Regions from separate parts of the Homo sapiens genome. Here region 2 is linked to region 1. The links come from fine-mapping of genetic effects on gene expression. A gene starts in region 1. The other region holds a variant in brackets. All regions are shown on one strand. Distances are from middle to middle. Region 1 holds the start of SUCLA2 (succinate-CoA ligase ADP-forming subunit beta). Region 2 overlaps SUCLA2 (succinate-CoA ligase ADP-forming subunit beta).

The links. PIP is the estimated chance that this variant, and not a neighbour inherited with it, causes the effect. A credible set is the group of variants that fine-mapping cannot tell apart.
Region 2: its variant is the best candidate, but not a certain one, in a credible set for the expression of SUCLA2 in whole blood (INTERVAL, PIP 0.85).

What each region holds. Positions count from the first base shown.
Region 1 is chr13:47,999,031-48,003,235 of GRCh38, reverse strand. It overlaps SUCLA2 (succinate-CoA ligase ADP-forming subunit beta), which reads left to right and starts at 1,963. Exons shown (of 11, transcript NM_003850.3): 1 at 1,963-2,056. The coding sequence starts at 1,967. It overlaps SUCLA2-AS1 (SUCLA2 antisense RNA 1), which reads right to left and starts at 1,831. Exons shown (of 2, transcript NR_189308.1): 1 at 1,414-1,831; 2 at 545-801. RefSeq lists enhancers at 423-1,622, 1,999-2,188, 2,209-2,258, 2,279-2,328 and a silencer at 1,769-1,878.
Region 2 is chr13:47,944,769-47,948,973 of GRCh38, reverse strand. SUCLA2 (succinate-CoA ligase ADP-forming subunit beta) reads left to right here. Exons shown (of 11, transcript NM_003850.3): 10 at 1-34. Among named protein-coding and RNA genes, the nearest start is that of LINC00562, 14 kb to the right of the region's middle. The variant C/AC (reference allele first, on the strand shown) is at 2,394.

The DNA of each region.
Region 1 (4,205 bases):
TTATCATGTGATTTTTCTAACTTAATATAGTGCATTACACATATTTTCAAATATTAAAACAAACTTACATCTCTGGAATATATCCCACTTGGTCATATTGTACAATTCTTTTTATATATTTCTGAATTATATTTGCTAATATTTTGCTATGGATTTTTCCATCAATATTCATGAGAAGTGTTGGTATTTTTTTCTTTTTGTACGGTCTTTTGCTGGCTTTGGTAGTGGGGTGATTCTAACTTCATACAGTACATTGGCAACTGTTCCTTCCTCTTCTATCTTCTGGAAGAGGCTGTATGGAATTGGTGTTAATTCTTGTGTAAACATTTTATAGAATTCATCAGTGAAAGCTTTTGGGCCTGGAGATCTCAGGTTTTTTTTTTTTTTAGTTTAAAAATTACAATTACAATTTTCTCTAGTTAGAGGACTATTTAAATTACCTTTTCATATTAGGTTATTTGTAGTAATTTGTGCCTTCTGAAGAATTCGCTCATCTTGTCAAAGTTGTCAAATTTATGTTATGTGGTGTTATTTATGGCATTCCTTTTTGGTGTCTGAAGGTTCTGTAATTATATTCCCTGGTATGTTCCTCACATTGGTAATTTGTGTCTTCTCTTTTTCTTTTTTCTTTGCAGTCTTGCTGGAGGTTTGTTAAATTTATTTATCTTTTCAAAAACCAGATCCTTGGCTGGGTGTGGTTGCCCACACCTGTCATCCCAGCACTTTGGGAGACTGAGGCAGGAGGATCGCTTGAACCCACGAGTTGGAGACCAGCCTGGGCAACATAGAGAGATTCTGTCCCTAAAAAAATAAAATAAAAAAATCAACCAAGCCTGGTGACACACATCTGTGGTCCCAAACTACTCCAGAGGCTGAGGTGGGAGGATCCCTTGAGCATGGGAGGTTGAGGCTGCAGTGAGCTGTGATCGCGTCACTGCACTCCAGCCTGGGTGACAGACCAAGACCCTGTCAATCAGTCAATCAATCAATCAATAGCTTCCCTGGAGACTCCAGCCTGCCACCAGCTTTGGTAACTAGTGGCCGACTGTCAGGCCTCTGAGCCCAAGCCTGCACGTGTACATCCAGATGGCCTGAAGCAAGTGAAGAATCACAAAAGAAGGGAAATTGGCCGGTTCCTGCCTTAACTGATGACATTCCACCATTGTGATTTGTTCCTGCCCCACCTTAACTGAGTGATTAACCTTGTGAAATTCCTTCTCCTGGCTCAGAACCTCCCCCACTGAGCACCTTGTGACCCCCGCCCCTGCCCGTAAGAGAAAAACCCCCTTTGTAATTTTCCGCTACCCATCCAAATCCTATAAAACAGCCCCACCCCTATCTCCCTTTGCTGACTCTCTTTTCGGACTCAGCCCGCCTGCACCCAGTTAAAATAAACAGCCTTATTGCTCACACCCTGTTTGGCGGTGTCTTCACACGGATGCGCGTGACACCGATCTCTTTGAGCATCAGAAGCGCATGACACCGACCATCTTCTCTTTGAGCATCACAAGCGCGTTACACCGACCATCTTCTCTTTGAGCATCACAAATGGTTTTATTCATTGCTGTAGGCCAAGGGCTCAAGGCTGTTTAGCACGAAGTAGACACTGGGTAATCATTTCTTGAATGAAACACATTTTACAGATGAGGCAACTGAGGCTGAGAGAAGTTAAGATCACCCAAGTGGCGGCGCTGGTCACCTTTACATTGCAATTCACTAGGAAGTGTTCAGGTTGCTCTGACCGCAGGGCAGATATTGGGGCTGCGGTGCCCAGTTCCAAAGGTCAAAGCTTGCTCCGCGCCCGCCAGGGAGCTGGTCTAGCGGCTGCAGTGTTAACCCGAGGCCCCGCCCCCAACGGGTGGCGCGAGGCGGGGCGTAGGTGAGCGCTGCAGAGAGGCTGCGCCTTGGGCCGCCTGTCGCCTGTGCGCCTGCGCGCGGCGCCGAGGGGACGGGGTCCGACTCAGAAATGGCGGCCTCCATGTTCTACGGCAGGCTAGTGGCCGTGGCCACCCTTCGGAACCACCGGCCTCGGACGGCCCAGCGGGCTGCTGCTCAGGTAATGCCTTCCAGTCCGCTGTCGTCTCGAGGGTCGGCAGGAGAAAGGGTGAGGTGTGAGGGGTCCCGTGGCCCGGCTCGGGGTCACTTCGCCGGCAGTGACATTTTCTGGGTGCCCTGCAAGGCCCTCGGGCGACTTGCCTGGGAGTGCTGCTCGCCAGGACTACGAGCGAGCCCATGTTTGCGCGGCTCTGACCCAGCCCTTAGTCCGCGAGGATCCCCGGCGGCCCGGCCGTGGCTGCTCCTGCAGTTTCTAAGAGATGGGCGGGAGCAGGTGGGCTCTGAGTGGAGGTGAGGGGGTCAGGACATTTTCTGCTGCCATTCCGGCGTCTGGCACGGTGGGCTGAGACTTGCGCCGCCCCTTTTTGGGCAGGGGGGAATGCCCTTCAAAAGTACTTTTGTGTTTCTTGGGAGCTGTCATAGGTGGGAATGTCAGAGGACCAGCGGTGCTTACTGACTTGCCTTTTGTGGGGCAAGGTAGGGAAGTTTCCCCTCTCCTCCAAGTAGTTGTATACTGTTCTACTTGTTAATAGCAGTAATAAGATTATGTTTTCTACCTAACCAGTTGGAGAGGTAAGAAAATAATCTTTTGTATAGCCTTATTTCTGGATAGGCTATAGCATAATAGTTACTGGCCTTGTTTTGAATATTTGATGTGTGCCAGGTAATGTGCTAAGCGCTTTACGTGTAGTTTCTCAGGTTTTTCAGCAACTGTGAGGAAGTCATTCAACACCTGCATCATTGTTGAACATATTATGGTTAAGAGAACAAGTAATTTGGACTAGGTCATATAGGAGGTAAGATCAAAGCTGAGATTTAATCCCAGAGGTGTCTGGTTCTAAAGCCGTGTACTTGAGTTGGCTCCACAACTTCGAAAACAAACATCTTCCTTCCAACTTTGACAACAAAAAACTGTGGAAGGGCATTATTGGTGTCCTAAGTCAATTCCAGAGTTTTGGGTTTTTTTCTGAAGTAACTCTTCATACATGTCATAGTATGAATTGATTTAGGGCCCTCCCGCCCCTACCTTTTTTTTTTTTTTTCATTTTTATTGAAGTTGTTCATACTTTCAGCCTAGGGGTAGTGAGTTCTGTGAGTTTGCTTCCCGATAGAAGTGACTTTTTGACCTTGAACTTCCTTCTTATGAATCTTAGAAGAGTGCTATTTAGTTTTTAGAAAATGGGGAATTTAGTGACAAATACGTTTTCATTCTAGTCAAAATCTTTATCTTTTTGGAAGTTCATTTAAAAGCCTTCATTTCTCCTTATGGAAATTTCCAATATTATTTTCTTTATAACAGTTGCTGTCTTCTACCCTGGTATTAAGAAATGCAGCTCTAGAGTTTGGAAGGACCTTAGTCCAACCCTTTGCTTTTGTAGATGAGGACATAGAAGTACGGAGTCTTAAGAAACTCGTTCAAGGTCACACATTTAATTTAGCAATTTGTTTTCCACATTTTTTTTTTTTTTTCCTTGAGACGGAGTCTTGCTCTGTCGCCCAGGCTGGAGTGCAGTGGCGCGATCTTGGCTCACTGCAAGCTCCGCCTCCCGGGTTCATGCCATTCTCCTGCCTCAGCCTCCCTAGTAGCTGGGACTGCAGGCGCCTGCCACCACGTCCGGCTAATTTTTTGTATTTTTAGTAAAGACGGGGTTTCACCGTGTTAGCCAGGACGGTCTCGATCTCCTGACCTCGTGATCCTCCCGCCTCGGCCTCCTAAAGTGCTGGGATTACAAGCTTGAGCCACCGCACCCGGCCTGTTTTAAACATTTGTTTAAGTTCTCTGACCCTCCTCCAATTTCTTGGTATCTTTAGCCTAGTGTACCTTCGTTGAAAATAGATATTTCAGCATATGTCTTTAAGAATAAGGACATTCTTCCAAATAACCGCAGTGATCATACTTAGGAATTCAACATTGCTGTAACATGAATATATATAGTTTAGATTCAGATTTTTCTAGTTGTCCCCAAAGTGTTCTTTATAGACATTAGATTTTTTAAAAATTTAAACTGGGATGAGACCTTGTGACATTTTCTCTGACCAACTAACCAATTAGGTGCCACCTAGTGACTTATGTGCTAGTGACCTAGTGCTCTTATATGTGTTGCAGTTGTTTATTTACATGCCTGTGAACTCTGTGGCTGGGACCCAAG
Region 2 (4,205 bases), 54 kb after region 1:
TGCTTGTGATGACTTGGATGAAGCTGCTAGAATGGTAAATTGGCCATGTTCATCTAAGGAGGATTTATAAACACAGATTCTAAAATGAACCTAATTATTAATACAGCTAATAATTTGTGTTTCAGCTAAATATTATGAGTGTAATGAATGGTTAAAGAAAACGATTATTCATGACTCTTGCTGAAAGATGTTAAGGCAGACTTTATTCAGAGGGACTGTTGCAATAAGCATAGAGACTACTGCAGTGGAGTTTTGCAGTAGGGGAGAAAGATTGGGCCCAACTCCAAATACAGCAAGGAAAAGTGGGAATTTATAACCAAGGAAGAGGGTCGGGGCAGTGGATGAAAAATTACTAAAAGGATACATTATGGGTAAGGGAGGATCCTGGCTAAACTGACTTAAGCAAGATTCTTGGTAAAATTGGACTATGCAGGGACAAATACAGAAGTCCAAAAGTTAGGGCCAAGTTGAGAAGAGAGTTCAGAGTAGCCTTTGGGAGGCTGAGGCAGGAGGATTGCTTGAGTCCAGGAGTTTGAGACTAGCCTGGGCAACATAGGGAGACCCTATCTTCACACATGTGCGCACACACACATGCACGCACACACACATGCACGCATATGTATGTATGTGTGTGTATCTATCTATATATTCGATAAATATATATTGAAAAAACAAAAGAGAGTTTGGTCAAGGAGAGAATCTTTGTCAGAACGTCTTATATCTGTGATCATCTTAAACAACGGTCAGCTCCTGCCCAATCTTGTTTGTTGTTTTGTCTGTATTCTTACTTCCTCCCACAACTGTGATTATTTTCAAGCAAATCCCAGACATTATATCATTTCATACATTTCATCATGCATCTGTAAAAGATAAAGGTATTGATAATGGTATAAAAAAATTACTGTTACTTGTTTTAGGTGGGGTAATGGTATTATGGTTATGTTTTATAAAAATACAGTCTGTTGAAATTTCTGAGTCTCTTATATCTTTTGTTTAAGTTCTTTGTAAGGGTCAGAATAAGTCTCTGCATTGTAGTTGGTTAATATGTCAGTAAGTTTCTTAATCTGTTGGTTTCCCCTTTTAAAAAGAAAAGTATTTTCTGTGGTTTATTTGTTGAAAAATCCAGGTTGATGGTCTTGTTAAGTTTCTCATAGTCTGGATTTTAATGGTTGCATCTTTAGGCTGTCATTCATTTACTGTGTTCTCTGCCCTCTCTGTGTTCTCTGCCTTGTGTATTTCCTGTAAACTGGGAGTTCAGTCTGTAGGCTTGACCATATTCATATTTGATTTTGGGGAGCAGGGAACAAGAATATTTCATAGTAGGTGTTTAATTTCATCAAAACGTATACAATGTTAATCTTTTTGTGGTATTACTAGCCATTGACATCATAGCTTAGATCCAGTATTTTGTTTGTGTTGCAAAGCGTTGCTATTGTAATTCTGTCATTCTTCACTTATTATATGTAATGCTTCTAAAAAGTAATACTTCCACGTGTCAACCATTTGTTACCATGGAGTACATTTTGCATAGGAAAAGTAGGATAATTACCTGATTATTTGCCTTTATTGACCAATTTTCAAAATAATGTTTGTTCTATTATGTCCAATAAAGGTGACCTAGGGTTTTTTTTGTTTTTTGTTTTTTTTGTATTTTGTTTACTTTTTGTTTTCAGGTGTGTGTGTGTGTGTGTGTGTGTGTATTGTGCGTGTGTGCATACACATGCATACACATGTGTGTTCCACTGGCATACTGTTTTGAACTTATGACTTAAAACATTGATGTAGTTCAGTTCATGTAAGTTGTGATTGAAATTGTCCAACCTTTGGTCTTTGGGAACCTCTTCAGGTTAACTGTTGCATCCTTCTGAGAAGCCCTCTATCTGGTATGATAAAATGTTTCAGGCTCATCTTTACGTTTCTTGAGTCAGAACTTGAATGGGCCAAATGGTATTTAGAGAGCACAATTTGGCCTTATGAGTATTCATAGATACTGGGTTGATTATTGTTTCTGAGCTTTTTAAGTGGCAAGTCTGAGAAAACATGTATTTTTTAAAGAGGTAATACTTGAGTTCATACTGATATTTTCAATGCAAGTCCAGGAGTATAGATTTTTTTTTCTTATCTGACATCTGTTTGTACCTTCGTTCATGCCATACTATCATAATTATTCATTTGCTTTGTCCCTTAGTACAGATATGACAGTTTTATAATAAGAATACCAACAGTCTGATTACTGAAAGCAATTATATCTGCATTTCTTTCTGTCCTTTAGGGTATGTCCCACAACTTAGTGGATTTTAAAATTCATGTGAAATAATTCTCTGTGTGTTTTGTCTCAGCTTTGTATAGTTTCATTGTTTTTAAAGGGATTGCTTTTTTTAAAAAAAAAAAAA[C/AC]ACAACCTTTTGTTTTTTATTTTGTATTTACATGATTCCAAAGTGGAAAGTATAGAACAAGGTATTATCAGGGAATCTAGCTTTTATATATTTCCCTCTTTACTTCTTCCCCAACAGGCAACCTTTTTACCTTTTTTTTTTGTTTGTTTTTTAAGAAAGTTTTGGTTTATCTTTCCACTTCTTAAAAACATAAGCTAATTGTATGTATATAACTATATGTATGTGTGCAGTAGTCCCCCCTTATCTGCAGGGAATGTGTTGCAAGACCCCTAGTGGGTGCCTGAATCACAGATAGTTCCAAACCTGTATATACTGTGCTTCTTCCTGTACATATATTCCTTTGATAAAGTTTATGTATTAGACATAGTAACAGATTAACAACAACTAATAATAAAGTAGAACAATTATAACAATATACCGTGATAAATGTGAATGTGGTCTCTCAAAATATCTTATTGTTCTATACTCACCTTTGTGGTGATAATGAGATGATAAAATGCTTACTTGGTGAGATGAACTGAGGTGAATGATGAAGGCATTGTGACATAGTGTTAGGCTACTACTGACCTAATGATGTAACAGAAGGAGAATCATCTGCTTTGGTTCATCCTGGATCATTGAGCCATGATGTTGATTGTTGGATGTCAAGAGTAGATAATGTTGATGACTAATGGAAGAGTAGTTTATACAGCGTGGATACGCTGGGCAAAGAGATGGTTCACATTCCACTTGGAGCAGGATGGTGCAAGATTTCATCACACTTCTCAGAACAACACACAGTTTAAAACTTAATGACTTTTTTATTTCTGGAATTTCTCATTTAAAATTTTTGGACCACAGTTGACTGCAGGTAACTGAAACTGTAGAAAGTGAAATTGGATAAGGGGGGGACTTTGTGTGTGTGTGTGTGTGTGTGTGTGTGTGTGTGTGTGTGTGTCTCCCTTTTCCCACTTTAGATTAATGGTAATCTATACTTTGTTTCTTTTACTTAACAATAATGTGTATCAGAGAACACTTCATAGTAGATACAGAGAGATGAGAATTTTTTGTCTTCCCTTCCATTATGTTTATAGACATTTCATTGAACACTCGAACACTCTTTGGGCTCTATAGCTTAATCAATAGTAGATTCTTGATTTTTTTTTTTTTTTTTTTTTTGAGACTGAGTCTTGCTCTGTCACCTAGGCTGGAGTACAGTGGCGTGATCTCAGCTCACTGTAACCTTTGCCTCCTGGGTTTAAGCAATTCTTGTGTCTCAGCCTTCTGAGTAGCTGAGACTACAGGTGTGTGCCACCACGCCCAGCTAATTTTTTTTTTTTTTTTTTTTTTTTAAGACAGAGTTTTGGTCTTGTTGCCCAGGCTGGAGTGCAGTGGTGTGATCTCGGCTCACTGCAACCTCCATCTCCCAGGTTCAAGCAATCCTCCTGCCTCAGCCTCCCAAGCAGCTGGGATTACAGGCATGTACCACCATGCCTGGCTAATTATGTATTTTTAGTAGAGATGCGGTTTCACCATGTTGGTCAGGCTGGTCTTGAACCCCTGACTTTGTGATCCACCTGCCTCGGCCTCCCAAAGTGCTGGGATTCAGGTGTGAGCCACTGCGCCCAGCCTTGTATTTTTAGTAGAGATAGGGTTTTGCCATGTTGACCAGGCTGGTCTCGAACTCCAGACCTCATATGATCCTCCCACCTCGGCCTTCCAAAGTGCTGGGATTACAAGCATGAGCCCCCAGGCTTGGCCAGACTCTTGAATTTACCGAGTTAATGTGATGTCATTTCACAAAAATAATAAAAGTCTTATGTCCTTCTTTGG